Linked DNA regions of Homo sapiens. The main gene of each other region encodes a partner of the protein of the gene in region 2 in a complex. Each region holds a gene or a part of one and is shown on either strand. Other genes may lie near its edges. The genes, in order: SART3 and USP4. A codon is read from its position in the direction of its gene.

Region 1 (16,299 bases), on a different chromosome or scaffold from region 2:
CTTAGGTGACAATGCAGTGGCATGATTACAGCTCACTGCAGCCTTGACCTCCTGGGCTCAAACAATCCTCCTACCTTCGCCTCTGGAGAAGCTGGGACTACAGACACATGCCACCAAGCCCGGCTTTTTTTTTTTTTTTTTTTTTTTTTTTTTGGTAGAGACAGGGTTGTGCTACGCTGCCAGGCTGATCTCAAACTCCTGGGCTCCAGCAATCCTCCCGCCTTGGCCTCCCAAAGTGCTGGGATTATAGGCATAAGCCACTGTGCCCAGCCTGAACACTTTAACACGCACAAAAATTTGAATGGCCAATCCACGTGAAAAGATGCTCAACTTCATTAGTAACCAAGAAAATACAAATTAAAACTACAATTTCAAATTCATCAAATTAAGTAAAATTTAAGTATGACCAATATCCAAGATTGGCACAAGCAACGAGAACTCTCAGATACTGCTCACAGCAGTGCAAACTGATAACCTGGAAAACACTTTAACATCACCCTATGATCCAGCAAAGTCATTCCTAAGTACGTATTCTAGAGAAACTCTTTTTCATGTGTACAAGGAGATACACACAAGAATGTTCAGAGTGGCGCTGCTCCTTCTCCTAGCAAAAACCTGGAAATGACCCAACTATCCAGCAACATGGATAAATACATCGCAGTACACAGACAACTTTACAGCAGTGAAAACAAATGCACCGGAGTTATACTTAGCAACATGAGTAAAACCCAAAAGCATGTTCAATGAAAATAAAATATACAGCATGATTCCAATATATAAAAGTTCAAAAGCAAGCAAAATTAAACAATATATTAATTAAGGATACTTTCATAGCTTGTAAAACTATAAAGAAAAGCAAGGGAATTATCATCACAAAAGTCAGGAAAGTGATTACCTCTCGGGAGAGGGAGGAGGAGGCAATCGGAGAGGGGCACATAGGAGACTTCTAAGGTACTGGCAATGTTCTATTTCTTAACCTGGGTGGTAGGTACATGGATGTTCACTTTATTATTAGTATGTAAACTGTACGTATACATTTATACACTCTATATATTTCAGAATAAAACATTTTAAAGATACTGTTTAACTCGCAACTATCCATCAGGGAAAGGTTTGTAGAGAGACGTTTACTATAAAAGAAGCCAACACTTACCAGTGCTTCTTCATAGGGTTTATATTTCTCCAGCTGCTGTAGTGCTTTGTTATAGTTCTGAATTACTGACTCTGGTATTGGGTCTTCTGACCATTCTTCATACTCTGCAAATGTGGCCTCCATATCTATTGAAAGATGGATTCAGCCCCGTGGGTCTTGCCATTGGGCTTTATCAACCCAAACACAGATTAAGCCATGAGACTCAGGTGCCACTAGCCCCTCCCACATCTGTGGCATGGCAGCTCTTACTGATCAAATTCTGATTTCTGCTGAGCCCAAACCTGTCTGTAGAATCTGTCTTAAAACAATGTCCCAGGCAACCCTCCCAGCTAATTAATCAGTCAATGACACTAGTGGCAACGATTTAACAACACTTACCCAGTGTTACCTATGTTCTACCACTTCACATCCACTAACTCATTCAGTCATCCCACTCTACAAGGTAGTCTATTGTGATCCTCATTTTGCAGTTGAGGAAACTGAAGCAGAGGGTTCAGTTGCTCGTCTACAGTTAATGGTAGAGCAAGGCTGTGAACCCAAGCAGTCTGGCTCAAGTTCGCACTCTAATCATTATGCTAGGTTGTTTCACGCTGGTAGGTGAAATCTGCAAGCCGGCTCAGCTCTAGTGTTTTCTGCATGATACCCAACCATTTGATTAGACGACTACTTTATAACTTGTTAAATCCAATAAACCATGAAGAGAAATAACATGTGGGCTCCAGTAAAGTTGCCCAGAGGTTCTGAGTATGTACAACACATGCCCGTGTCTAGGGAACAAACACAACAGCCATGACAAACTCTTCCCATACTCAGAAAAATCCTCCCAGCACGCACACACTCATAGCTCCAAAGACTCAAAGGCTTAGATTGCCAAAATGTATTTACCAAATAAGGAAACTCTTTACCAAACCCCAAGAAACTCACTTATGAGTACTTCCAATCAACTGCACTTCTGAACCAAATCCCTCCCATAGAGGAATGATCTAAACTCATGTAAAATTCCTGCTGTTATGGAAGAGGTTACTTGTGAAGAGAAAATGATTATAATGGAACTCTTGTTCAATGAAGTTTCCCCAAAAAATACAGGTGTCATTCACTATTCCTTTCAGAGACCCTATCTCTGCCCTTCCAACTAGGTCTCAAAGGAGAAAAGAGCTCTCACCTGGGAGTCAGGGAGTCTGGCTTCCAGTCCTGCCTCTGACCCTCACAACCCTCTTAAGCACTAACATTCAAGATGTTTTTACCAAGGACCTCATCCAAAGAGACAATATCCAAGGAGAGTAAGAACACCAGCTTTACCTGCCTCACAGGATGGTGGGAAAGGTCTAACTACATGTTGTTCCCCAAAGCATTTTAAAAACCATAGAGGGCTGGCTGTTGACATGTCAGTTTCTCTTACCATAGAGTGGGATCGCCAACTGTCGCCGGAAAAGACTGTGGACTTTCTCAAGCTGTGAATCAAAGGTTTGTTCCCGGTCAAAAGGGGAAAGGAAGCCAGCTACGGGCTAAAGAAGCAAATTAGTAGTAAATGACAAACTGTGGTTCTTTCTTTTTCTTTTGAGAAGGGTTCTTGCTGTCACCCTGGCTGGAGTGTGGTGGTGTGATCACAACTCACTACAGCCTCACACTCCAGGCTCATGCAATCCTCCCACCTCAGAGTCCTGAGTAGCTAGGACCACAGGCATACGCCATCATGCCCAGCTAATGTTTTAGTTCTTGTAGAGATGGGGACTCACTACATTGCCCAGGCTGGTCTTGTACTCCTGAACTCAAGTGATCCTCTGGCCTCAGCCTCCCAAACTGCTGGAATTACAAGCATGAGCCACCGCACTTGGCCAACTCTGGTTCTTTCTACTTCAAAAAATATCTCAACAAATTTTCAGTTCAAGCTAAAAAAATTTATACGACCTCTTCCATACATATTGTACCAAATGCTAGAAGGGGTATAAAAAAAGGTTATCTATCACCCCACCACTAAGGGATTGGCAAAGACCATTTTGTTAACTATATGAACTGCAAGATTCATCATGGACATGTGTTTCAAAATAATCCTTCCAAGGAGACTTACAAAGACAGCCCCAACCCGTTCAGAGACAACCACAGGTACTCACCCGAGCAGCTTCCACAATCGCACTTTCAAACTCTCGGTAAGCCTCCCAGAGGGCGAGTCCTTTGGTCATATGTAAACCAACAGACGAGAGAGCCCTTTCAAACACGGAGCGAACTTTCTCAAGGCCACCTTTCTGACCAATCCCACCAACTGAGTACTGGCCATACTCTAGCCAAATGTTAGGACCTAAAAATAAGAAGTGTTCAATTAGTTTGGGATATAAAATACCCAAATATCAAAACTGATGCATAACAAACGAAATGTGCCTACCAAAAAAGTACTCAGACAGCAGCACTAAATGACAGTGAAGGCCTAACAGCAGAGATGACCATAAAGGACTAAAAAACATTACAGTCTGGGGAAGACCATAGATCCTCAGAAAAAGATAAATGGTGCTATTAACAATGCCTGTGAGAGAGTAAGAAGGGGGTAACAGGATCATCAGAAATCATGGGAACACCATGCACTGCTAAAATTATCAGTGGCTCTAAAAGAAGACTCATGGGCCACAGAGCAGAGATACAGGTATAGTTTTTAAAAACACATTTGGCCAGGTGCGGTGGCTCACGCCTGTAATCCCAGCACTTTGGGAGACTGACGTGGGAGGACCACAAGGTCAGGAGATCGAAACCAGCCTGGCCAATATGGTGAAACCCCGTCTCTACTAAAAATAGAAAAATTAGCCAGGCGTTGTGGCAGGCACCTGTAGTCCCAGCTACTCAGGAGGCTGAGGCAGGAGAATCGCTTGAACCTGGGTAGGGGGGAGGTTGCAGTGAGCCGAGATCACACCACTGCACTCCAGCCTAAGCGAAAGAGTAAGACTCTCTCTCAAAAAAAAAAAAAAAAACACACATATAATATAGTTTTATATTCATAAAACACCGCTTATTTTCATTATTCAGATTATAAACCAAAAAACTGTGAATTCTTCTTGGCTTGTAAAGATACACAAAAAATTCTCTATCATCTCAGAACAGTCTATCTGGTTAGTAGCAATGCTTCTCACAGGGGGACTGCTCCCATTGGGAAATCAACAAGGAAGAGGGTACGAAATCTGAAAGGGGAAATTGTTTGTTTGTTGAGACACAGTCTCGTTCTGTCGCCCAGGCTAGCGTGCAGAGGCATGATCACGGCTCACTGCACCCTCTACCTCCTGGGTTCAAGCAATTCTCCTGCCTCAGCCTCCCAAGTAGCTGGGACAACAGGAGCATGCCACCACGCCTAGCTAGTTTTTTGTATTTTTAGTAGAGATGGGGTTTCACCGTGATAGCCAGGATGGTCTCAATCTCCTGAACTCGTGATATACCTGCCTCAGCCTCCCAAAGTTCTGGGATTACAGGCGTGAGCCACTATGCCCAGTCTGAAAGGGGAAATTTTTTTAATGCTTTTTTTTTTTTTTTTGAGACAGAGTCTCACTTTGTCGCCAAGGCTGGAGTACAGTGGCACAATCTCGGCCCACTGCAACCTCCGCCTCCTGGGTTCAAGCAATTTTCATGCCTCAGCCACCTGAGTAGCTGGGATTACAGGCCTGCATGCCACCCCGCCCGGCTAATTGTATTTTTAGTGGAGATGGGGTTTTCCCCATGTTGGGCAGGCTGATTTCGAACTCCTGGGCTCAAGGGATCCGCCTGCCTCAGTCTCCCAAACTGCTGGGATTATAGGCATAAGCCACCATGCCTGGCCTTAAAATGCTTTTTTTTGAGACAGAATCTTGCTCTGTTGCCCAGGCTAGAGTGTAGTAGCACAACCTCAACTCGCTGCAACCTCCACTTCCCAGGTTCAAGCAATTCTCCTGCCTCAGCCTCTTGAGTAGCTGAGATTACAGGTACGTGCCACCATGCCTGGCTAATTTTTGTATTTTTAGCAGAGACGGGGTTTTGCCATGTTGGCCAGGCTGGTCTTGAACTCCCGACCTCAAGTGATCCACCAGCCTTGGTCTCCCAAAGTTCTGGGATTACAGGCGTGAGCCACCACACCCAGCCTTAAAACGCTTTTTAAAAGCATTTTGTCCACAGCATTGTCTGATGTGGTCCCCAATTCACATGGAGAAAATATTTAAGACAATTATACTATATACAAGGGACGGTAAAGAGACTTAAAGGGAGGTGAGTCTTCTATACTTCACTTGCACTGGTAAGATGTCAATACCAGCAGGCGAGGGAGGTCTCTGTGGGGACAGAACAGCTCTGTATCTGGACTGCAGCAGTGGTTAGATGAATCTACACATGTAATAAAATGTCTTTTTTTTCCCATTGTTCCAAGGTCAATTTCCTGGTTTTGATTTTGTATTACAGAAACAAGATATTGGAGGAAACTGGGTGAAGGGAGTACACAAGACTTCTCTGTACTATTTCTGCAACTTCCTATGACTCTATAATTACTTCAAAATAAAAAGGTTTTCTTTTAATGTTTTAATCTTTTTTTTTAAAGCATCCTGTCCAAAACCTCTAAAAACCTATTGAATGTATAAAAGATCAGTGGAAATACCATGTAAGTTCTCACTGTCAATAAATCCTGAGTGTGAGTGTATTCATTCCCTTACTACAAGTGCTTCTTCCACTTTTATTTTAAAATTAAACTTCCTCAATTAAAGACCAAAGACAATGATAAGACAACTCAACTTAAATCTTGCTAATTGTGAAACTAACGTTCCCTTTTCTGGGTAGCAACATCTCATAATACAGTCCTCAACAGCAGACTGATATATATGACATTGCCAGATATCCAAAAAAAGTCCACGGGAACTTACAAATGTAATCCTTCACGGCTTTCTCAAAGAGGTCATACACGTGCTCTCTGTCCAGGCCATCCTGGGCCATGCTGATCTCGTCATGCAGCCACTCCAGCCAGAGCTCTACGAGACAAAAATACTTCCCGCATTAATACCAAAGGGTAGGCTAAGCGCAGGGACTTTACCAAGAGACATCAGCATGCAAACGTTTCATCCATCTTACACAACCTGGCGTTGTTTCCAGAAATTCACTTCTTAAAACCTGAACTAAGCACATAGGAGGTTTTATGCTTCCAAATAAGATCAAATCACTAAAATCATAATATCCTCCACCTGTTAGGCATTTTATATTTTGCAAAGCACTTTTCTCATTCAGTCTTTATCACAATCCTGTAAGGTTGGTGATAGTAACACTAATAATAATGACATCTATCTAAGGATGACAACATGCCAGGCATGTGTTAAGTGTTATACGTAGAATAGCTCATCCTATACCGTCATACATTACAATGCAGAAACTACTGTTGCCATCATTTAACTGCTAGAAAAACTGAGTCTTAGAATGTTTACATAATTTGCTTAAGGTCACACAGCTAGTAAAAGATGTAGCCAGGAATGAATCTAGGTCACCTGACTCCAGCATCTACACTCGGCAGTTATGCTTTGCAGAAGGGAAAAGGGGCAGAGTGGGATCTAGGACCAAAGTGTTCTAAGTACTGCCCAAAGATCACTTATTAATATTCATGAAGATTGAACTACAGAGTTGTTCAGTGCAATTATGTTTCTAATAAGCAAATAAGTAGAAATAACCTAAATGCCCAACTATTCTGGAACAATTAATGTATGAAACATTTACATAAAAAACTGTCTGTAAAAGTTTAAATATATTTACAATTTTCTGGTTTCAAGAGAATGGTTTAAATACATAAATAGTGAAATGGGAAATACAGAAATGAAAGCCAAGTTTAATTACATTACAAATGTTTACCACAACGTTAGAATAAAGAAATCAGAATTCAAAATCCGTGTTATATGATCATAACTACATTTTGCAAAAAACTACAATAAACTAAAAATAGCTAACTCTGATGCGTTTTCTTCTTTCCACTACACTGAACGTTCCAGGTTTTCTACAAGGAGCATGTCCCACTTTCAACATTGTAAAAAATGTGCAAGCCTTGTTTCTGTTTCTAAAAGCAGCCTGACTGCTGAAGCTTACCTTCAGTCAAGGGAAAGATTTCACTCATCTTCTGGCGGGCCATCCTCACCTTGGTAAGCTCCCCTTCCAGCCTGAGCAGTCTGATCAAGTCCACATGGCAGTTGTAGTCATAGACGTTGATAGACAACTAACAGGAAAAGAAACAAGTTGAAATTTAAAACACCGTCATCAAGTAACTTAGCTTTTGTCACTACTGGTAACTACACATATACCTGCCACAAACAAAATAAACGTGCTATCTGAGAAAACCACTGAAACAGCAACCCAGCACGTACCCACAGGTAGAAGACAAAACAATAAAAGAGGCTTTTGTAACAAACATAAAGCTCCCTCAAATCTGTTACAGTTCCTGTTAGAAGACATTTGGGTTCTCTTGGAAATAAAGGAGGCATTCTAATGAAACAAATAAAAAGTATGTGACCTTAGGTAAGTTATTTACTTTCCTAAGCTCTATTTCCTCATCTATAAAATGAGGACACTACTAGTTTCTAGCTCATACCAGGTCTTCCAAGGATTTAAAAAATTTCTACTGTTACACTGGTCTTTAAGAAAAACTAAAAAATAAAAAGGTAATTTCATAACGTCCTTTAGCACATGTGAGGTACACTGTAAGACCTCTTTTATTTTACTAAATAAAAAAGATGGAAGCCAGTTGTGGTGGCTCACATCTGTGATCCCAGCACTTTGGGAGGCCGAGGCAGGTGGATTGCTTGAGCTCAGGAGTTCGAGACCAGCCTCAGCAACACAGTCAAACCCTATCTCTACCAAAAATACAAAAAATTAGCCAGACATGGTGGCATGCACCTGTGGTCCCAGCTACTTGGGAGGCTGAAGTGGATCACCTGAGCCTGGGAGACAGAGGTTGCAGCGAGCCGAGACCACACCACTGCACTCTAGGCCTGGGTGACAGAGCAAGACCCAATCTCAAAAAAAAAAAAAAAAAAAAAAAGATAGAAATCCCTATTAGAGAAACAAGAGTGGCAGCAGGTTGGTATCTGTTGATGCTGAGTGACAGGTACATAAAGTTTTATTTGTACATTTGAAACTTTTCAAACTAAAATTATTTTAAGTTACCATATATCTGAGACAAAGAAAAATGAAAAAAATGTCACTAGCAGACCTACCCTTGAAGAATAGCTAAAGGAAGTTCTTCGAACAGAAAAGTTAGAAGAAGGAATCCTAAAGCATCAAAAAGGAAGAAAGAACAGGAAGAGCAGAAATACGGGAACTACGACAGATTATCCTCCTCTCCTCATGAGCTTTCTAAATCATATGTAATGGAACAAACATTGTAAGAACTTCTGATACCCAACACAGTATTATTTAAAAGTGGGGATGGAAAGAGAACTGAAATGGAAGATTCCCTCACTTCATTCAAGTGGTAAAACACGGATACCATGTAAGTCAACTCCGTATATTTTAATACCCAAAGCAACCACTGAGAAAACTATTCAAAGCAATTACACTAAAAATCACCTTAAATAAATCAAGATGGCTGGGCATGGTGGCTCACACCTGTAATCCCAGCACTTTGGGAGGCCAAAGCGGGCAGATCATGAGGTCAGGAGTTCAAGACCAGCCTGGCCAACATGGTGAAACCCTGTCTCTACCAAAAAATACAAAAAATTAGCTGGGTGTGGTGGCACATGCCTGTAGTCCAGCTACTCAGGAGGCTGAGACAGGAGAATTGCTTGAACCCGGGAGGCGGAGGTTGCAGTGAGCAGAGATCCAGCCTGGGTGACAAAACAAGGCTCCATCTCAAAAAAATAAATAAATAAATCAAGATGAAAATCTAAAAAATATTCAAATAATCCACAGAAAGGCAAGAAAGGAGAAACAGAAGAATGAGAAACAGAAAATAAACAGAAAATAGTAAAACGGCAGGCTTTGGTCTGAATAAACCAACAATTGCCTTAAATGCGAATGGTGCATATATGCTAATTAAAAGGTAGATAATGGTAGAGTGGATAAAAACACAACCCAACTATATGGTGAGTACAAGAAATTCATTTCAAATTCAAAGACACAGGTAAACTGGTTGAAAGGAAAAGGAGAGAAAAAGATAACATGCAAGCATTAATTAAAAAGTTGAAGCGGACATATTAATATCACATAACGTACACTTCAGAGCAAAGAAAATTACTAGAGATAAAAAGGATTATATAATGACACATAATAATAAATAGATCAATCTACCAGGAAGACATAACAATCCTAAATGTGTAGGAACCAAAGAGCGCTTGAAAATTCATGAAGCAAAAACTATTACAGAGCTCAAAGAGACACAGCAGCAATTACATTTGGCAACTTCAACATCTCCCTTTTCAGCAACTGATAAAACTACTAGACACTTGAATATGTTGAACCTGGTCAAAAAGAAGATGAATAAAAGAAAAAGAAAATTAGACAAAAGCAAATTAAAAAATTTTTAAGTTTTTAAAAAGAAAGGAAATTGTTTAATTTTTTTTTAAACTAGGCAGAACAGGGTTATAGAAGAACTCAATAACGCCGTCAACGAACATGACCTAATTTATATAGAGAACAGCCCACCCAACAATACAGAATATGTATTTTTCTCAAGTACTTACGGAACATTCACTGAAGCCATATCCTTGGCCATAAAACAAACCTCAACAATTTAAGAGAAATGAAAACCATGCAGAGTATGTTTTGTGACCACAATGGAATCAAATTAGAAACCACTAACAGTAAGAAAATCTCTGAACACGTGAAAATTAAGTAATACACTTCTAAATAATCTGCAGGTCAAAGAGGAAGTCTCCAAGAAAATTTACAAATTAAAAAAAGTGAATGAAAATGAAATTGCAACAAATCAAAATAAGTAGGATGCTACTAAAACAGTACGGAGGAAAATTTAAAGAACTAAATTCAGTGTATAAGAAGAATTATACACCATGACCAAGTGGTATTTATTCCAGGTTTGCAAGGCTAATTCAACATTTAAAAATCAATTACTGTAATCCAGTGTATCAAAAGGCTAAAGAAAACTCATGGTATCAATAGATGCAGAAAATGCATGTGACAAAATCCAACAACGATTCATGGTTAAAACACTCAGCATGTTAGGAATAGAGGGAAACAACCTCAACCTGATAAAGAGCATCTATAAAAAATCTATCCCATAAGTTGGGATATAGGGTTACCTTAACATCATTCCTAATGGTAAAAGATTGAACACTTTCCTCCTAAAATCAAGAACAAGGCAAGGATGTCTGCTCTCACCACTCTTTTCCAACAAAGTCCTATAAGTTCTAGCCTGTTCAATAAGACAAGGAAAAGAAATAAAAGCTATACAGCTCGGAAAAATAAAACTGTCCTGATTTGTAGATGATATGGCTAAGTAGACAATCTTAAGGAACCAATTAAAAAAAAAAAAAACTCCAAAAATAGTGAACTGAGCAAGGTCACAGAATATAAGATAAACATACAAAAACAAAAAAAAAAACAAAAGAACATGTGGAAACCAAATTTAAAGACATAGCACCATTTACAATCACTCCAAAAAACCTAAATAATTAGGTGTATATTTAAAAAGTTTACAAAATCTGTATGCTGAAAATTACAAAATGCTGAGGAAAGAAATCAAAGACCTAAAAAAAGAGACACTTCATGTTCATGGATTGAAAAACTCAACATAGTCAAGAAGTAAATTCTCCCTAAACTGACTTACAGGCTTACTGAAACTCCAATTAAAATCCCAACAAGGTTTTTTGTAGACCTAGACAAGCTTATTCTAAAATGTATATGGGATGGCAGAGGCCCTAGAATAGCTAAAAATGATCTTGAAAAAGAATAAAGTGGGAGTAATCACTCTACCTGATTGATACTAAAACCTACAATACAGCTACAATCATCAAGGCAGTGTGAGAATGGCAGAAAGATACATAGATGAAGAGAATAGAACCCAGTAACAGACCCACACAAATATGCCCAAATAATTTTTGACAAACGCAATGCAACAGAGGAAAAAAAAAGGCATTTTCAAAAAATGATGCTGGAGCAAATGGATATCCACAGGCAAAACAAATAAATACACCTTGACCTAAACTTCACGCCTTACAGAAATAACTCAAAATGGATCACACTTAAATGTGAAATGTAAATATAACATCACAAAATGTTAGGACAAGAGAAAAATTTCAAGGCAACATCAAGGATCCTTAAGGTGACAGAACTGATCTGTATCTTGACTATATCAATGTCAATACCCAGGTTATTACATATTATAGTTCCTCAAAGTGTTATCATTGAGGGAAACTGGGTAAAAAGTACACGAAAAATCTCTATTATTTCTTACAAGTGCATGGAAATCTACAATTATCTCAAAATAAAAAGGCGAATTGTTTAAAAAGCTTTTGTTGGGATATAGGGATAATTTAAGTCTGTACACCAAGACTTCATTAGTATCTACTCTTCCAACATCTGCCACATTTTAGGAATATTTCCCTCTCCAGAGATAAAAGATTACCTACACTTCATTCAAATTACACTCTACCATCTGACAACATACCCTAATAATCCAGGTACTAGATATTTAATTAAAATACAGAAAGACAGCCAATGAATATGATTACTTGAACTTTAGGATAAAAATCTTAACAATGAAGTAGCCAGTGAACCTTTAAATGGAGTGGGGACAAGGACCAACCATTCAGAGAATACAAATATGAAGGATTACGGGGTTTTGTTCAAGTGTTTAGATTTTAAACAAGAACTCATTATCTTTCTCTACTAATTATAATAGTAAAACCCTTCCATGGCTTCCCAGTATCCTAGGAACAATTTGCAAATCCCTGCCTCATGTGCAATCCCAGCATGCTGGGCTCATCTCTCCAGCTACATCTCAAACCACCGGCCTCTCAACATGGCAGCCAGCTTCGTGTAACTCAAACATTCCAACGTCTCTCCAACCTCAGGGCTAGGCACCTGCTGCTCCTTCAGCCCAGAAGGATCTCTCACCTTCTCTCTGCCTAGCCACCCCTTTTCATACTTCAGGTATAAACTTCACTTCCTCAGAGGGCGCCCCCGGCCCCCCTCCTATGCCACTCTTTCTTAAGTAGCCCCCTATATGCTGCAAGCTGTTTTCCATCTCATCATCGTGTTTATTTCCATCATGACCTAAAGGCTTCATGGGATAAGTACCTTGTATGTCTTATCCTTGACTTGGTTAGATTCTTTACCTACCTGGCACACAGAATTCAATAAATTACATGTCAATCTCACTCAAGAGCATTAATACAAAAATCCTAAATAAAATATTAAAAAATCAGAAATGTATAAAGAGAACAATACATAATGATCAATTTGGGTCTATCCCAGGAATGCAAGGGTGTTTTTACACTACAAAATCATCCAGTATAATTTTTCCACCATCAGATTTGAGGGAAAAAAACATGATTACCTCAATGAAGAAATAGCATTTGATTAAAACATCCATTCATGAGTCAAAATTAAGAATTAGCAAACTAGGAATAGAAAGGCACTTCCTTAACCTGATTTTTAAAATCTGCAATAAATATATTTTAATAACATATTTATATATTTATTATATTGTTTATTATATATTTATATATTTATATTTAGTAAATTTAATAATACATTAAAATTCCTTTTAAAAAACACAAAAAACTTCCCAGTATTGCCTTCTATTTAACCCTGTACTGGAGGTCTGGGGTTTTAACAATGAGACAAGGAAAAGAAACAGATATAGAGAAAAGAATGAGAACTGTTAATTATGGTCAGATGATATCAATGTATAGTAAACCAAAACTCATCTACAAACAAATCATTTGGAAATAATAAACAAGATTAGCAAAGTGACAAGCAATAAGAGCAATGTATAAAAATCAATTATATACAAAGAGACAAATACTGTATGATTCCACTTATATGAAGTATCTAGTCAAATTCATAGAGACAGAAAACTACAATGGTAGTTATCAGGGGATTGGGAAGGAAGGAGAAGGAGAGCTGTTTAATTGGTAGAGTTGTATATATGCAAATGAAAACTTTGGAGATCTGCTTCACAACAATGTGACTATACTTAACACTACTGAACCATACACTTAAGAATAAGATAGCAAAGTTTACGTTATATGTTTTTTACAATAAAAAAATTACATTTCTATAAACCAGCAAGCTTTAAAATGTAATTTTAAATAGGATAGCATAAACATCAAGCACTATAAAGTACCTAGAAATACATCTAACAAAAGATGTGTGAGACCTCTATGGCAAAATGTTTTTAAACTTGATTGAAAGATATTAAAGACTTGGCCGGGGGCGGTGGCTCACACCTGTAATCCCAGCACTGTGGGAGGCCGAGGCAGGCAGATCACTTGAGTCCAGGAATTCAAGACCAGCCTGGGCAACAGGGCAAAACCCCGTCTCTACAAAAACTGTAAAAATTAGCTGAGTCTGGTGGCACATGCCTGTGGTCCCAGCTACTCGAAAGGCTGAGGTGAAAGGATCGCTTCAGCCCAGCAGGCGGAGGTTGCAGTGTGCTGAGATCATGCCACTGTACTCCAGCCTGGGAAACAGAGCAGGACCATGTCTCAAAAATAGAAAGAATATTCAATACCTAGACGAATGGAGTTATATGCATGTTCTGGGTTAGAATAATCATTATGGCAAAGACGTCAATTCTCCCCTAAATAATCCATAAATTCAATGCAATTCAAATAAAAAAACCAACAGGGTTTTTCACAGACCTTGACAAAATAATTCTAAAATTTATATGAAAGAGCCAAAACACCCTGCAAGGAAAGAAAAAAAGCAGGTAGGAGGATTTGTCTTACCAGATAGCAAGCCTTAGCAATAAGTTAATCAGTGGAATTGGCACAGGATAGACAAACTGAAGAGAGAGCCCAAAACAGACCCATGCAGTTGAAAAACACTATGGCTCAGGTGGCACTTGCTGTTTCAGCTAAAATAAATTCACAACCTATGACTATGACCCCCAGGTTGAAAAACAGTGACTTTGAGAAACTCTCTTTTTTTTTTTTTGAGTCAGGGTCTCACTCTTACCCAGGCTGGAGTGCCGTGGCAGTCACAAATCACTGCAGCCTCAAATTCCCAGGCTCAAGTGATCCTCCCGCCTCAGCCTCTTGAGTAGCTGCTACTACAAGCTCATGCCACCACACATAGCTAAATGTTTTAAATTTATTTTTTGTAAACACAGGGTCTCACCATCTTGCCCAGTCTGGTCTCAAACTCCTGGGCTCAAGGGATCATCCTGCCTCAGCCTCCCAAAATGCTAGGACTACAGGTGTGAGCCACTGCATCTGGTGAGAAACTCTTGTACATGATGTGAACTGCTTTGTATTTATCAAATTACATGCCAAAAGATAATAATCAATTACAGATAAGAACATGATCTCTAAGTTTTAAATCTTAAGACTTTTAGCAATGTTCTCCTGCTTATGATTCATAAAACCTGAGAAGCTGAACTCATCCGATGATCACACGATAGGCTGAAAAGCACTGGACCAGATCAGGACACAAGTGTTCTAATCCCCACTTGTTCTGTTTCCTCATCTGTACCATGAAAGAGCTGGGCTAAAGCTCTGGTTCTTAAATGGGCTATCATGACACACTGATGTTTCAAAATCACCTATCAAGTGTGTCACACAAAGTAACCGCAGTTTGGGATGTTTGAGAAGTGAAGTTTGAGAAGGATACACTTTCTTCATTAAAGAACATTCAAGGCTCTCCCCACCACATCACCAGTCTGAACTCAATAGAGTGTGCTTGCGGAGCACAAACAGGAGTGGGAGAGCACTTGCTAGTCAGTGTCACGAATATCTATGCATGCAAGTGCCCCTCACATGAACACCATGTGTGGATCAGCAGAAGAAAAAGGTATAAAAGTCGCTAAAGTCAAGAAGCTGACTTTTAAGGTGTGGCTTTTGGTGTAAACTTCTGATTTTTAGGGTAAAATGATGAAGATACTATATGTGGACAAGTACTCTGAAAGTACATATATTAAATACATACTGAAATGCACTTAAAAGAGCTATTTCCACATAGTTCAATCTATACTGATAAATGAGTACATATGCTGGTCTATTCTGGTCTTAGAACATCATTAATGACATAGTTTTTTTTTTTTTTTTTTTTTTTTTGAGGTGGAATCTTGCTCTGTCACCCAGGCTGGAGTGCAGTGGTGTGATCTCAGTTCACTGCAACCTCTGCCTCCCGGGTTCAGGCGATTCTCCTGCCTCAGCCTCCCGAGTAGCTGGGATTAACAACATAGATGCTTTAAAGGAAACTTAACCAATCACAAAATGATCTGCTAACTGATTTAACTCCCTAGCAATGTGAAAAATGTGTTATACCTAGCTGTACTAGAATGGGGGAGAAATAATAGAGAGGACTGATGGAAAGAAAACAACTGGTGCAATCAAAGGCAGGGAAGGGAGAATGGAGCAGCACCTATTATGCGCCAAACTGTGCCAGGCGCTTTACGCACATTGTGCCATGCCCCACAACAGTCCCATGAGGAAAGCACTATTACAACCTTCATTTTACTAACTGGGACACCCAAGACTCTGCGAGCTGAAATAACTTGTACAAGGCCTTTCCACTACTCAATGGAAGGCTTGGGTTCAGGGTTGCAAAGCCATAGTCTCCGTACTGCTGCACTGACAAATCTGCCGAAGCCACCATGAAGTGCCACTTTTAATTTCAGCGCACAAACACATATAATGGAAAATATTTGCTTTTGTTAGACAGATACCACAGCAAACTGCCAGCTACCATAAAATATAATCAAGGCCACGTGCAGTAGCTTGCGCCTGTGATCCGAGCACTTTGGGAGGCTGAGGCAGGAGCATCACTTCAGCTCAGGAATTCAGCACCTGCCTGGGCAACATAGTAAGAACCCATCTCTACAAAAAAAAAATATTTTTAATTAGCCAGGCATGGGGGTGCATGCCTGTAGTCCGAGATACTTTGGAGGATGAGCTGGGAGGATCACTTGAGCCTGGGAGGTCCTAGCTGCAGTGAGCCATGATCACACCACTACTCCAGCATGGGCAAGAGTGAGATGCTCTCAAAAAAAAAAA
Region 2 (16,299 bases):
TTTTCCACATGTTCTAACATGCTTTCTAATTACCATACTTCTTATTTTTTCCCCCCTTCATTTTTGCCTTCCATTAATTTTCCTTTTGCAGGTGTGGCAGTTTGCTAGTCGCCTCCTGCTAGCTATTTTCCCCTCCTTCCTTAGTTTGAGAACCCCAGTTTTTAGCTGGACATGATGCAGTCCTGCTATACAGTACATCCCAGCCTTCCTGAAAGCCAGGTATTGTCATATGATTAGCCAATGAGATACAAAGGAGGTTTGATGTATGATATCTGAGAAATGTCCTAAAAAGGAAGGGGTAGGTCAGCTGGGTTTAATATTGCCATGGAGCTGCTACGTCAGCAATGGATTGACTGCCTACGTCAGAAATTCTTTTCAGAAAGATGTAAGCCTCCATCTTGCTTAATACGCTAATTTGCAGATTTTTCTTACCTGCCAGCAAGCCTTTCCTAACTGACGTAGTATGTTTCAAAGTTATACATTCAATTTTCCGTTTCTGTTAGTTGTTCCATTAACTTATTAGGATCTCTATTTTTATTTTTCCCCATAAATTACATAAACTTACAATTGTTCACCTTTCTCATCCTCAAGAATAGTAGTTCTGGACATTCTCATCTCTCTCTGCTCTATACTAATTCCTCACCTATGTTGGAATTACCCAGAATTTATCTCTGGAATATTATAGATACTAGTTGCTTTCTTAAACCTTGATTATTATTGTACCTTTTTTTTTTTTTTCTCCTGAGACAGAGTCTCACTGTATCGCCCAAGCTGGAGTGCAGTGGCACGATCTAGGCTCACTGCAATCCCCACCACCATTCTCATGCCTCAGCCTCCCCAGTAGCTACGATTACAGGCATGTGCCACTGCACCGGGCTAATTTTCTTCTATTTTTTAAGAGATGGGGTTTCAGCATGTTGGCCAGCCACCGCACCTGGCCTATTATTGATTTTTTTTGGCCGGGCGCCGTGGCTTATGCCTGTAATCCCAGCATTTTGGGAGGCCGAGGCAGGCGGATCACTTGAGGCTAGAAGTTCGAGACCAGCCTGGCCAACATGGTGAAACCCCGTCTCTACTAAAAATACAAAAATTGGCTGTGCATGGGTGGCATGCACCTGTAATCCCAGCTACTCAGGAGGCTGAGGCACAGAATTGCTTGAACCCAGGAGGCAGAGGTTACAGTGAACCGAGATCATGCCACTGGACTCCAGCCTGGGCTACAGATCAAGACTCCGTCTATTAAAAAAACAAAAAAACAAAACCCCTGAGTGTATAAAATCAAGAAATTTGCACCAAGTGATACATCCATGTAACCACTACCCTGACCAAGAAACAGGACACCCCCAGACCCCTAGGTGTCCTTCTCACGATTCAGTCGCAATTCTTCCCAACACTAACCAGTTCTGACCATGAATCCCCAAGGTTAATTTTGCCTGTTATAAAGTTTTAAGTCAACAGAATCATTATGCCCTGCTCTGTGTCTACCTTCTCTCATTCATCATTTTTCATTAGACTCATCACTGTTGTGCAAAGCTGGACAGAATTTCCTTGTGTGCTTACACTTACTGCAGTTTATCCATTTACTTTTGATGGACATTTGGGTTAGCTCCAGTTTGTAACTATGACAAGCAGTGCTAGCACAAACATCCTGAAATATGTATTTAAGAGAACATGGGATATATTTCTATTGGTTATATGCCTAACAACAGGATTGTTGAGTAGCAGAATGTGCATATAATTCTACATTTTTGCCTCTTTTTTTTACTAGTGTTGCCTGACTTGTTTGTATTGACTAGTAGGAATTTCTTTGCAACTCTAGATATACGACCAGCTGTGGTGGCTCATGCCTGTAATCCAGCACTTTGGGAGGCTAAGGCAGGCAGATAACTACAGGCCAGGAGTTCAAGACCAGCCTGGCCAACATGGTAAAACCCTGTCTCTACTAAAAATACAAAAATTAGCTGGGCATGGTGGTGGGAGCTTGTAGTCCCAGCTGCTCGGGAGGCTGAGGCATCAGTCACTTGAACCCGGGAGTGGGGGTGCAGTGAGCTGAGATCGCACCATTGCACTCCAACCTTGGCAAGAGAGTAAGACTCCGTCACAGGGAAAAAAAAAAAAGAAAAAAAAATTCTGGACACAACTTGTCAGACATGGATTACAAATCTCTTCTCTCACTGTATGGCTTATGGCTTGTCTTCACTCACTGGTGAACAGACATTCTTTTTTTTTTGAGATGGAGTTTCGCTCTTGTTCCCCAGGCTAGAGTGCAATGGTGCAATCTCAGTTCCCTGCAACCTCCGCCTCCCGGGTTCAAGCGATTCTCCTGCCTCAGCCTCCCAAGTAGCTGAAATTACAGATATGCACCACCACGCCTGGCTAATTTTGCATTTTTAGTAGAGACAGGGTTTCTCCATGTTGGTCAGGCTGGTCTCAAACTCTCAACCTCAGGTGAGCCGCCCACCTCGGCCTCCCAAAGTGCTGGGATTACAGGCATGAGCCACTGCTCCTGGCCTTTTTAAAAAAAAAAAAAAAAAAAAAAAAAAAGAGATGGGGTCTTGCTGTCGCCCAGGCTGGAGGGCAATGGCAGAATCATAGCTCACTGCAGCCTCAAACTCCTGGACTCAAGCAATGCTCCCACCTCAGCCTGTCAGGTAGCTGGGACTACAGGCACTCACCATTGTGCTTAATCCCATCTGCAAAGTCCCTTTTGCCATGTCACCTGACATAATGACAGATTCTGAAACAGATTCTGGGAATTAGGATATGGATATCTCAGGGTGAAGATGAGCACAGCTATGCCTACCACAGCTATTTTATTTATCTTGTCAACAACTGGCAACCGGGGTTTCTTAAACTGGAGTCCATGACTGGACTTCAGGGGTTCTAACAGTTCTTCTCTTAAGAACTCATAGTTTTCATGGTTCTCAAATGACCTAGGAGCCCACTACTATGTAATGGTCACAGTCCAAGGCCTGACAGAGGGAAAAGGACAGAGCGCAACATTATTCCCATAACTACTGGAACACAGATATAATTTCCAAAACTTATACCATAACGAAAATTAATCACTTCTTTATCTCCCTAAGAACATGCACAGTTCCACATACCACATGAACATCTCTTGAAACAGATGTGTCCTTAGTCCAAGTTTTGTAGCTGAACAATTCACCCAGCAAGCTCCCAGGGCAACAATGAGTAACAGGCCACTGGGCAGAAACAGGTAGAATCAAGCTATCACTTTTTTTTTGTTTTTGTTTTTTTTGGGTCAGAGTCTTGCACTGTCACCTAGGCTGGAGTATAATGGTGCGATCTCAGCTCACTGCAGCCTTCACCTCCTGGATTCAAGCGACTCTTGAGCCTCAGCCTCCCGAGTAGCTGAGATTACAGGTACCTGCCACCATGCCTAGCTAATTTTTGTATTTTTAGTAGAGACAGGGTTTTACCATGTTGACCAGGCTGGGCTCGAACTCCTGGCCTCAGGTGAGCCACCTCCCACGGCCTCTCAAAGTGCTGAGCTTACAGGCATGAGCCACCATGCTCAGGCCTCAACTATCACTTTTAAGTCATATAAAACCCCATGCCTTAGCCTTCCTCTTATCCATCAAGGCCTCTAACTACATGTGGAGAAAATAAAAGCGTGACAAAAACAAAGCAACCTCCTGGTAGAGCAGCAACCTTAGACTTGATCCCTCATATCCCTTCCTCCTTTTCTCATTCTCCACGAGCAGAGGCTCGCCACCTTGCTGAGATATCCTGACAGGCTTCCCTTAGATGCTGCCCTGCTACCAAAAGCCACGGTCTTCATCCAGAAGCATGAACTCTGGATATACAAAATAGGCATTGTTCATCTGAATCAGAACAATTTTTCTTAGTACAAGTACTGCCTTAGGAAAGACTGTCTCTTTTGCACATGTGAGCCTACAACAAGGGAGAAAAAATTCACTTACTTTGACTGCAAGGTCTGCCTGGGCCATGTGCCATCTTCATTTTGAGGCTCAATTACTAGCACCTGAGTGAAAGGGGAAACCAAATGAGGAGAGTTCAAACCACCGCACTTCCAACATGCTTAGAAGCAAAAAGTATCTGGCCACACACCCTGGGCAGAGCTACCTGCTGGGGAATGGCCAGGGCCCTCCTACCTGACCCTGGTATAGCCCAGCATCCTGGACAGTGTTGTCTAGCTTGCTCAACTGCTCGTAGGTGTTGCTCATGTATTTGTTCCAGAGCCGTGTTTCACGCTCCGCAGGGATGTTGAATAGCTTCCGCATCTCTTTCTCGATGGTTGCTAGGAACAGGCAGAAATATCACTTGGGGCTTTGTCCACATGCAAGGCTAAAGACAGCCATGGCAAACTAATGCTCATCCTCTTTCTTGTCAGATGCTCACAGGTGCTCTGGATCAACCCCCTGATACCTCTTAAAATCAATCATCTCCCATGGGTGGCCTCTTGCACTCATATGCCTGGAAAGTATCCCTATGCTTCTTTGCTAACGTGTGTCTCTCATTTATGGCGCAAAAGCAACATAGAAAGCGAGAAAGCTTATCTTTGGAGTTAACTCAGATATGGCTTCAAAAGCTAGCTCCACCATTTTCTGGCTGCGATTTGTTTTTTTTTTTAAGAGACAGGATCTTGCTCTGATGCCCAGGCTGCAGTGCAGTGGTGGGATCGTAGCTCACTGTAAACCTTGCTGAGATTTTTAAATAAGTTATTTTTAAACTTCTTTGGATCTACATTTCCTTATCTTCATTATCATAGACAAATGGGCAAGGAGCAGGCCCAGTGTTCTCTCCATAAGAATTCCTGGAGGAATAGGCCCCCAGGTCAGGACTGGCAACTACAGCTCGAGATGATTTGGGTAACAAATCTAAAGAGGGCATATAAAATAATGCCCTCTTCCCTCCCATCAGCCACAATGTCCTACACTCTCTCACCACATACCAGGGACCCCAGCCCAGCCTCTCACCAATGGTGTCTGCCTTGCTGAAATGGCAACTCAGCACATTGGTGGGGTCACTGTTCTCACAGAGCTTCAGTTCCAGCAAATACACCTCGACTTTGCAGTGCTTGACAAACAGGCCATGCTCCACAACCTATGAACAAGAGGCAGGGGTGAGGGCATAGCGGTTTTGCAGCTGGGCAGTCTTGGATGTAGCATATCTTATCAGAAGCAAAAAGCAGAAAACTCATGATAATCCATTTCCTTTACTGATCAAGGGATCAAAAGAACAGATTTTTAAAGCTACCAGTACCTGGACAAAGAGTTTAAAAATATTTTTTCTGGCCGCGTGTGGTGGCTCACGCTTGTAATCTCAACACTCTGGGAGGCCGAGGTGGGTGGATCACTTGAGGTCAGGAATTTGAGACCAGCCTGACCAACATGGTGAAACCCCATTTCTATGAAAAATACAAAAATTAGCCGGGCATGGTGGCATGTGCCTGTAATCCCAACTACTCAGGAGGCTGAGACAGGGGAATCGCTTGAACCCAGGAGGTGGAGGCTGCAGTGAGCCAAGATCGCTCCACTGCACTCCAGCCTGGGCGACAGAGCGAGACTCTGTACCCCGCAAAAAAATATATATATATTTTTTTTCTACCCACTAAGACCAAGAGCATCTTGATGATATTAGAGAGAAGCCTATTCTTCACTGTTTTTTGTTTTTGAGATGGAGTCTTCCTCCGTCAGCAGCCTGGAGTGCAGTGGTGCGATCTCAGCTCATTACAACCTGCACCTCCTGGGTTCAAGAGATTCTCCTGCCTCAGCCTCCCGAGTAGCTGGGACTACAGGGGCCCACCATCATGCCCAGCTAATTTTTGTATTTTTAGTAGAGACAGGATTTCACCATGTTGGCCAGGATGGTCTCGATCTCTTAACCTCGTGATCCGCCTGCCTCAGCCTCCCAAAGTGCTGGGATTACAGGCGTGAGCCACCATGCACGGCCTGATCAAAGACTCTTTTTTTTTTTTTGCAACCGAGTCTCACTCTGTTGCCAGGCTGCAGTACAGTGGGGTGATCTCGGCTTACTGCAACCTCCGTCTCCTGGGTTCAAGCAATTCTCCTGCCTCAGCCTCCCGAGTAGCTGGGACTACAGGTATGTGCCACCACACCCAGTTAATTTTTGGATTTTTAGCAGAGACGAGGTTTCACCATGTTGGCCAGGGTGGTCTTGATCTCCTGACCTCGTGATCCACCCGCCTCAACCTCCCAAAGTGCTGGGATTACAGATGTGAGCCACTGCGCCTAGCTCAAAGACTCTTAAGCATAGAGGGAAAAGCAGTATCATAAAGGTTTTTTAAGATAAACAAGATGCAGGACATTAGCTATATGTCCATATGCCCCCAGTGAACTTTCTCTCATAGAATTTTCCAGAAAGTTCTCTCACAGCGCTGCTGGGCACATTCCAAGCCACTGGGCAGCTCTGATGTTTAGAGGCCACTCATGATAATATTCTGGGTGAGCAACTTCACTCACAACCACAATTTCCTAAAGAGAACCAGAAACAGGCTGGGCGTAGTGGCTCACGCCTGTAATCCCACCACTTTGGGGGGCCGAGTCGGGCGGATCACAAGGTCAAGAGTTTGAGACCAGACTGGCCAACATGGCGAAACCCCGTCTCTACTAAAAATACAAAAATTGGCCAGGCGTAGTGAAAGGCGCCTGTAATCCCAGCTACTCAGGAGGCTGAGGCACGAGAATCACTTGAACCTGGGAGCCAGAGGCTGCAGTGAGCCGAGATCGTGCCGTTGCACTCCAGCCTGGGCGACAAGTGCACAAGACTCCATCTCAAAAAAAAAAGAGATCCAGAAACAAGGCCTCAAGCACCACTATTCAACCACTGAGGTATGTTCATTTTCCTAGCAAACACTAGTCAGTGTCCAACAGAAAGCACCTGCAGACAGTGACCAGCAGGTGGGACAATTCACATAACTCACTTTTCTGACGATGGGTTGCTGGCCTTCTACACAGCCGTACCAGTTTAGTAGTTTATTCCACGCCTCGGTAGGGACCAATACATAGTCCAATTCATCAATTAAGTGTTCTTTCAAGGTCTGACTCTCAGGATCTAAAAAAGGAAAAGAGCACATAAGTCACTGCTCTTTACCCCAGAAATGATGGTTTTACATGATTTCCATGTACTTTTCAGAAATAAGAAAATTATTTACAGAAAGAAACAGGAATGAAATTCCAAAATTCTGTCACTGGTCATTATACAGAGCAGACTTTTGTCTTTATCCATGTTTTCTCTTTATCCATGAAGATTTTATGAGGAATTTGTATTTCTTCTATAATTGGAGGGAGAGAAGAGGATAAAAAAGAAAAACTCCAGGCTGGGTGTGGTGGCTCACACCTGTAATCAGCACTTTCGGAGGCTGAGGCGGTTGGATCATGAGGTCAGGAGTTTGAGAGCAGCCTGGCCAACATGGTGAAACCCCGTCTCTACTAAAAATATAAAAATTAGCCGGGTGTGGTAGCGGGCACCTGTAGTCCCAGCTACTCGGGAGGCTGAGGCAGGAGAATTGCTTGAACCCGGGAGGCAGAGGTTGCAGTAAGCCAAGATCACGCCACTGCACTCCAGCCTGGTGAAAGAGCAAGACTCCATCTCAAAAATAAATAAATCATACATGAGGTGGTTATGGTTTCCCACCATCCCTCCGACTAGTTTACACACCTTTTTCAGGGCAGGGTTCCTTTGTTGTCATTTCAACAATGCTCATAACATCTTCACCAGACATAGATTCCATCTCAAGAAACCATTTTCTTTGCTCACCCATAAGAAGCAACTCCTCAGCCATTCAAGTTTTATCATAAGATTAAAGCAATTCAGGCCGGGCATGTTGGCTCATGCCTGTAATTCCAGCACTTTGGGAGGCTGAGGCAGGCAGATCACTTGAGGTCAGGAATTCAAGATCAGCCTGGCCAACATGGTGAAACCCCATTTCTAGTAAAAATACAAAAATTAGCTGGGCATGGTGATGCATGCCTGTAGTCCCAGCTACTCGGGAGGCTGAGGCATAAGAATTGCTTGAACCCAGGAGGTGGAGACTGCAGTGAGCCGAGATACCCCACTGTACTCCAGCCTGGGTGACAGAGCAAGACTCTGTCTCAAAAGAAATAAAAATAAATAAAAATTAAAATTAAAAATAGGCCAGGCGCAGTGGCTCACACCTGTAATCCCAGCACTTTCGGAGGCCGAGGTGGGCAGATCATGAGGTCAGGAGTTCAAGACCAGCCTGGCCAGGGTAGTGAAACCCCGTCTCTACTACAAACACAAAAATTAGCTGGGCATGGTGGTGCACACCTGTAGCCCAGCTACTTGGGAGGCTGAGGCAGGAGAATTGTTTGAACCCAGGAGGCGGAGGTTGCAGTGAGCCAAGATTGCGCCACTGCACTCCAGCCTGGGTGACACAGCGAAACTCCATCTCAAAAAAAATAAAAATAAAAGTAAAAATAAAAAATAAAGCAATTCAGTCACATCTTCAGGCTTCACTTCTAATTCTAGTTCTCTTGCTATTTCCACTTTTGCTGTTACTTCTCCCACTGATGTCTTGAGCCCGTTGAAGTCATCCGTAAGTGTTGGAATGAACTTCTTCCAGACTCCTATTAATGTTGATTTTGACCTCCCATGAATCATGAATATTTTTGTGTGTGTGTGTGGGCAGGTGGGAGTGGCAGGCCTTACTCTATCACCCAGGCTGAAGTGCAGTGGCATGATTACAGCTCACTGCAGCTTCGACCTCCCAGACTCAAGCAATCCTCCTGCCTTAGTCTCCCAAGTAGCTAGAACTACAGGTGCATGCCACCAGGCCTAGCTAATTTTCGTATTTTTTATAGGGATGGGGTTTTGCCAAGTTGCCCACCCTAGTCTCCAATTCCTGGGTTCAAAGGATCCACCTACTTCAGCCTGCCAAAGTCCTGGGATTATAGGTATAAGCCACTGCACCAGGTGGAATCATGAATATTCTTAATGGCATCTAGAATGGTAAATCCTTTCCAAAAGGTTTTCAATTTAATTTGCCCAGATCCTTCAGGAGAATCACTATCTATGGCAGATAAAGTCTTATAAAATGTATTTCTTAAATAATAAGACTTGAAAGTTGAAATCAAATCAGGCACGCTGGCTCAGGCCTGTAATCCCAGCACTTCGGCAGGCTGAGGCGGGAGGATCACTTGAGGTCAGAAGTTTGAGACCAGCCTGGCCAACATGGTGAAACCTGGTCTCTACTAAAAATACAAAAATTAGCCAGGTGGAGGGACGGGCACCTGTATCCCAGCTACTCAGGAGGCTGAGGCAGGAGAATTACTTGAACCTGGTAGGAGGAGGCAGGAGAATTGCTTGAACCTGGGAGGGAGAGGTTGCAGGGAGCCAAGACTGAGCCACTGCACTCCAGCCTGGGCAACAGAGTGAGACTCTGTCTCAAAACAAACAAACAAACAAACAAACAAACAAAAAAAGTTGAAATTACTTCTTGACTCACAGGCTGCAGAACGGATGTTTTTAGTAGGCATGAAACAACATTAATCTCCTCATGCATCTCCATCAGAGCTCTTGGGTAACTAGGTACATTGCAATGGAGCAGTAACTTTTTTTTTTTTGAGACAGTCTCGCTGTGTCCCCCAGGCTGGAGTGCAGTGGCGCCATCTCGGCTCACTGCAAGCTCCACCTCTCGGGTTCATGCTATTCTCCCGCCTCAGCCTCCCGAGGAGCTGGGACTACAGGCACCCGCCACCACACCCGGTTAATTTTGTTTTTGTATTTTTAATAGAGACAGGGTTTCACCATGTTAGCCAGGATGGTCTCAATCTCCTGACCTCGTGATCCGCCCACCTTGGCCTCCCAAAGTGCTGGGATAACAGGCGTAAGCCACTGCACCTGGCAGCAGTAACATTTTGATAAGATTAGCTCAGTGCTTTTTCTGAGCAGTAGGTCTCAACCCTGAGCTAAAAATATTGGGAGGCTGGAGGCTGGAGGCCGGAGGCCGGGCGCGGTGGCTCCCACCTGTAATCCCAGCACTTTGAGAGGCCGAGATGGGTGGATCACGAGATCAGGAGATTGAGACCATCCTGGCCAACATGGTGAAACCCCGTCTCTACTAAAAATACAAAAAAAGTAGCCGGGTGTGGTGGCAGGCACCAGGCGCCTGTGATCCCAGCTACTCAGGAGGCTGAGGCAGGAGAATCGTGTGAACCCGGGAGGCGGAGCTTGCAGTGAGCCGAGATCGCGCCACTGCACTCCAGTCTGGGTGACAGAGCAAGACTCCGTCTCAAAAAAAAAAAAAATATTGGGAGGCCGGGCGTGGTGGCTCACACCTGTACTCCCAGCACTTGGGGAGGCCGTGGTGGGCAGTTACCTGAGGTCGAGAGTTCGAGACCAGCCTGACCAACAAGGAGAAACCCCGTCTCTACTAAAAAAACAAAATTAGCTGGGCGTGGTGGCGCACGCCTATAATCCCAGCTACTCAGGAGGCTGAGGCAGGAGAATCGCTTGAACCTGGGAGGCAGAGGTTGTGGTGAGCCAAGATCGCACCATTGCACTCCAGCCTGGGCAAAAGAGCAAAACTCCGACTCAAAAAAAAAAAAATCGGTAAACTTGTTGTGGTGGCTCATGCCTGTAATCCCAGCACTTAGGGAGGTCAAGGCGGGTGGATCACTTGAGGCCAGGAGTTTGAGACCAGCCTGGCCAAAATAGCAAAACCCCATCTCTACTAAAAGTACAAAAATTAGCCAGAACTGGTGGTGCATGTCTGTAATCTCAGCTACTTGGGAGGCTGAGCCATGAGAATAACTTGAACCCGGGAAGCAGAGGTTGCAGTAAGCCGAGATTGCACCACTGCATTCCAGCCTGGGCGACACAGCGAGATTCTGTCCCAGAAAAATAAAATAAAAACAAAAATATTCGGTATACCATGCTGTAAATAAATATGCTATCATGCAGGCTTTGTTGTTGCATGTGTAGGGCACAGGCAGAGCAGATTTAGCATAATTCTTGAGGGCCTTGGGATTTTTGGAATGATAAATGAGCACTAGCTTCAAACTAAAGTCACCATCTGCAGTATCCCTTAAGAAGAGAGTCAGCCTGTCCTTCAAGGCTCTGAATCTGGCCGGACAGAGTGGCTCATGCCTATAATCCCAGCACTTTGAGAAGTCAAGGCAGACAGATCACTTGAGCCCAGGAGTTGGAGACCAGCCCGGGCAACACGGCAAAATCCCATCTCTACAAAAAAAAAAAAAAAATACAAAGCTGGGCACAGTGGCTCACACCTGTAATTCCAGCACTTTGGGAGGTCAAGGCGGGTGGACCACCTGAGGTCAGGAGTTCGAGACCAGGCTGGCCAACGTGCTGAAATCCCGTCTTTACTAAAAATACAAAAAAAAATTAGCTGGGTGTGGTGGCAGGTACCTGTAATCCCAGCTACTTGGGAGGCTGAGGCAGGAGAATCACTTGAAACTGGGAGGTGGAGGTTGCAGTGAGCCAAGATTGTGCCATTGCACTTCAGCCTAGACGACAGAGCGAGACTCTGTCTTACAAAACAAACAAACAAACAAACATATAAAAATCAGCCAGGCATGGTGGCAAGCAACTGTAGTCCTAGCTACTCAGGAGGCTGAGGTGGGAGGATCACTTGAGCCCAGGAGGTTAAGGCTGCAGTGAGCTGTGATCACACACTACAGCCTGGGTGACAGGGCAAGACCCTGTCTCAAAAAAAAAAAAGGCTCTGAACCCAGGCACTGACTTTTCCCCTCTAGCAGCAAAGAGGTAGATGGCATCTTCCCAATAGAAGGGTGTTTTGTCTACATTTAAAATCTGTTGTTTAGGCCAGGCACAGTAGCTCATGCTTGTAATCCCAGCACTTTGAGAGGCCGAGGCAGGCGGATCACTTAAGGTCAGGAGTTTGAGACCAGCCTGGCCAACATGGTGAAACCCCATGGTGAGACTCTGTCTCAAAAAAATAATAATAATAAATAAAAATAAAATAAAATAAAACCTGTTGTTTAGCCTGGGCACAGTGACTCACACCTGTAATCCCAGCACTCTGGGACGTCAAGGCGGGAGGATTGCTTGAGCCCAGGAATTCAAGATCAACCTGAACAACATGACAAAACCCACAAAAAATCTCTGCAAAAAATACAATAATTAGTCGAGTGTGGTGGGGCCTGTAGTTCCAGTTACTCAGGAGGCTGAGATGGGAGGATCACCTGAGCCTGGGAAGGTCAAGGTTGTAGTGAGGTGTGATTGTGCTACTGCACGAGGTAGCAGTAGCTACCTTTTTTTTTTTTGAGACAAGATGGCACCTTGTCTCAAAAAAAAAAATAAATGAATAAACTTTCTCCATATCAGCAATAATAAGGCTGTTTCAGCCTCTTATAATTCATGTGTTCACTAGAGTAGCACTTTTTTTTTTTTTTTTTGAGATGGAGTCTCACTTCTGTCGCCCAAGCTGGAGTGGAGTGCAGTGGCGCAATCTCAGCTCACTGAAACCACCATTTCCTGGGTTCCTCCATCTCCCAGGCAACATGACAAAACTCCATCTCTACAAAAAGAAAAAATAAACACATACAAAAATGAGCCAGGAATGCTGGCAAGCACCTGTAGTCCTAGCTACTCAGGAGGCTGAGGTGGAAGGATCACTTAAGTCCAGGAGGTTTACATTTACATTCACAACTTGGCTAGCTATATGGCACAAGAGGCCTAGCTTACAACCTATTTCGGCTTCCTTAACCAAACTCAAATCATTTCTAGCTTTGATTTGAAGTGAGAGACATGCAATTCTCCTTTTCACTTGAACATTTAGAAGACGTTGTTAGGGTTACTAAGTGGCCGAATTTCAGTGTCATTGTGTCTCAGGCAATAGCAAAGCCTGAGGAGAGAGAGAGAGATGGAATGGCTGGTTGGTGAAGCAGCGAGAATACACACAATAATTACCAATTAAGTTCACTGTCTTACATGGGCTCCCTTCATGATGCCCCAAAACAATTACAATAGCAACATGAAAGATCCCTGTTGGCTGGGCATGGTGGCTCATGCCTGTAATCCCAGCACTTTGGGAGGCTGAGGTCGGGAGTTCAAGACCAGCCTGACCAACATGGAGAAACCCCATCTCTACTAAAAATACAAAATTAGCCGGGCGTGGTGGCACATGCCTGTAATCCTAGCTACTCGGGAGGCTGAGGCAGGAGAATCACTTGAACCCAAGAGGTGGAGGTTGCCATGAGCCACGATCATGCCACTGCACTCCTGCCTGGGCAACAAGAGCAAAACTCCGTCTCAAAAAAAAAAAGAAAGCTCCCTGATCACTGATCACCATAACAAATAATAATGAAAAACTTTGAAGTATTTTGAGAATTACCAAAATGTGGTAACAGAGACATGAAGTGAGCACATGCTGTTGTAAAAATGGAACTGACAGATTGTCAAGGCAGCGTTGCCAAATACCTACAAAATTTGCTAAAAATGCAGTATCTGCAACATATAATAAAGCAAAGCACAATAAGCCAAAGTATGCCTGAATTTAAAACCTTAAGAATTCTCCATTTCATAAAAATGAGAAAAAGAACAAAATGTGAACATAATGAAATGATTCCTTAGGGCAACTTCGTGGCATAGTGCCACCATTTGACCTATTTCAGGAAACAAAGTAAATGATATTGTTTATACCATGTAGACCTCTCCTAAAACAAGGTCTGAGCTGAAGCATTGCTCAGTTTTAAAAATATCCAAGTTAGGCCAGGCACAGTGGCTCACACCAACACTCTGGGAAGCCAAGGTGGGAGGATGGCTTGAGGCCAGGAGTTCAACCAGCCTGGGCAACATAGCAAGACCCCGTCTCTACCAAAAAACTTAAAAAACAGCTGAGAGTGGTAGAACACTGTAGTCTCAGTGACTAAGGAGGCTGAGGCAGGAAGATAGCTTGAGCCCAGGAGCTCAAGGCCAGCCTAGCCAACATGGTAGAGACGGGGTTTCACCATGTTGGCCAGGCTGGTCTCGAACTCCTGACCTCAGGTGATCCACCTGCCTTGGCCTCCCAAAGTGCTGAGATTACAGGCGTGAGACACCACTCCTGGCACTGCCCTGATTTTTGACACCCATGACAGATCACCTCTATCATGACTTTAAAGAGGTCTGAAGTCAGGCAAAAGAAAGCCTGGGAAAAGCTGACTCTGTCATCTCAGTGCATGTACAAGTGCAAGCAAGCTCTAGTGTGTTACATGTCGCTTTTCCCACAGTTCCCATTGGGAGCTGACTACAGTCATAACTCTGTCTACTGACCTTCAACCTCTCCTCACACTAGTTATATGATAAAAACAGCCATCACAGGAATTCTTGATGAAAGTTCACAGGTTTACAATTTGTTCCACTGCAAAGGTAACAAAAAATTCTGGTTCTTAAATTTTAGATACAATTTCAAAATGACATCCTATTTCTTTCCATTCCATATACTAACTTAAAATGTGAAATAGCTAGCAGAACTAATTTGCAAAGAGAGAAAGTTAAAATGTTAGAAGCATACTCTTATCAGATGCAGTTAATTTAAGGGAAAAAAGTAGCTTAACTTCTCATTAAGGGTTTGCAAAGACTTCTGCTATAGATGCAAAATGAGGATACTTGTTTCTATCTCCTCACACTAGGAAAGTTCACAACGTCCATGTTACAGATGCACATAACATCAGGCCACTGCCCAGGTGAATGTTTAGCTAGAAAAGCAACATTTACTATACCTGAAAATAGCCCAGAGTTGTCTATTGGGCCAGGAAATAGGTTATGTTCACCCACATTGTACATGTCCCAGCTGTCAAAGCCCACATACTTCTTCCACTGCTTGAACCACCGGCTGTCAATAAGATACCTAGAGAGAGACAGAAATTTACTGTAGCAGAAAAGCTGAGATTATAAATTTCTGCAGCTGCTTCCTTAATCTTTTTTATGGTCCTTCCACTTGGGGCATATGCAATACCCACTAAAAAACACTGTCACAAGAGCAAGAGCAGGGCCCAGGCCCCACATGGCACAGAGAGTCTGGCCCAGGGTATGCATCCATTAAGTGAAATGATTGTTCAAAGAGTGAATAAAAGAAAGAAAACAAGTGGTTTCAAAATGCTTATTTAAATGCAGTCTTTCTTTTTTTTTCTTTTAGACGGAGTCTTGTTCTGTCGCCCAGGCTGGAGTATAGTGACACAATCTTGGCTCACTGCAACCTCTGCCTCCCAGGTTCAAGCGATTCTCCTGCCTCAGCCTCCTGACTAACTGGGATTACAGGCACCTGTCACCACTCCCAGCTAATTTTTGTATTTTTAGTAGAGACGGGGTTTCACCATGTTGGGCAGGCTGGTCTCAAACTCCTGACCTCAGGTGATCCGCCTACTTCGGCCTCCCAAAGTGCTGGGATTACAGGCATGAGCCACTGCACCTGGCCTCTTTTTTTTTTTTTTTTTTTTTTGAGACGGAGTTTTCGCTCTTGTTGCCCAAGCTGGAGTGCAGTGGTATGATCTTGGCTCACTACAACCTCCACCTCCTGGGTTCAAGCAATTCTCCTGCCTCAGCCTCCCAAGTAGCTGGGATTACAGGCATGCATCACCAGGCCCAGCTAATTTTTTTGTATTTTTAGTAGAGATGGAGTTTCACCATGTTGGCCAGGCTGGTCTCGAACTCCTGATCTCAGGTGATCCTCCTGCCTTGGCCTCCCAAAGTGCTGTGATTACATGCATGAGCTACCACACTCAGTCTAAATGGAGTCTTTTCATGGGTAAAATCATGTTTGCTAATAAACAAGTCATTAACTTCTTTTTTTTTTGAGACAGAGTTTCGCTCTTGTTACCCAGGCTGGAGTGCAATGGTGTGATCTCGGCTCTCCGCAACCTCCGCCTCCCGGGTTCAAGTGATTCTCCTGCCTCAGTCTCCCGTAGCTGGGATTACAGGTGTGTGCCACCACACCTGGCTAATTTTGTATTTTTAGTAGAGACAGGGTTTCTCCATGTTGGTCAGGACAGTCTCAAACTCCCTACCTCAGGTAATCTGCCCACCTCGGCCTCCCAAAGTGCTGTGATTACAGGCGTGAGCCACCGCACCCGGCCACAAGTCATTAATTTCATAATGATCTTTACAGAAGTCCCACTCCAGGCAGACAGTTTGGTTACACTGTTTTGCTTGACATGAACAGCACTAAACTAATGCTCTTTCTGAAAATGGGTTAGAAACACCACCCACTTCAGTTTTCCTTTAAGGACCAAAGGAGTTCCAAAAATGTACACACAAGGCCAGGCGCAGTGGCTCACACCTGTAATCCCAGCACTTTGAGAGGCCGAG

The links.
Region 1: the proteins of USP4 (region 2) and SART3 are in contact, whole or in part, in a crystal structure (PDB 5CTR), measured with the Homo sapiens proteins. Residues at the interface, in NP_003354.2 of Homo sapiens: Met24, Thr27, Leu28, Ser53 (codon at 14,787), Trp54 (codon at 14,784), Glu123, Gly125, Leu126, Phe127, Val128, Lys129, His130, Cys131, Lys132; in NP_055521.1 of Homo sapiens: Asp437, Ser438, Ser439, Lys440, Gln490, Arg493, Glu494, Trp496, Asp497, Met500, Thr501, Ala505, Trp511, Tyr514, Lys529, Arg533, Cys537.

What each region holds. Positions count from the first base shown.
Region 1 is NC_000012.12:108,541,875-108,558,173, forward strand, and holds part of SART3 (spliceosome associated factor 3, U4/U6 recycling protein), read right to left. Parts: intron 7,341-16,299; coding exon 7,214-7,340; intron 6,118-7,213; coding exon 6,013-6,117; intron 3,450-6,012; coding exon 3,265-3,449; intron 2,659-3,264; coding exon of another isoform or gene 2,605-2,658; coding exon 2,553-2,604; intron 1,279-2,552; coding exon 1,154-1,278; intron 971-1,153; exon of another isoform or gene 938-970; coding exon of another isoform or gene 896-937; intron 1-895. UniProt on the Homo sapiens protein: U6 snRNP-binding protein that functions as a recycling factor of the splicing machinery. Promotes the initial reassembly of U4 and U6 snRNPs following their ejection from the spliceosome during its maturation.
Region 2 is NC_000003.12:49,320,755-49,337,053, forward strand, and holds part of USP4 (ubiquitin carboxyl-terminal hydrolase 4), read right to left. Parts: intron 14,843-16,299; coding exon 14,715-14,842; intron 7,063-14,714; coding exon 6,932-7,062; intron 5,092-6,931; coding exon 4,965-5,091; intron 4,286-4,964; coding exon 4,140-4,285; intron 4,010-4,139; coding exon 3,948-4,009; intron 1-3,947.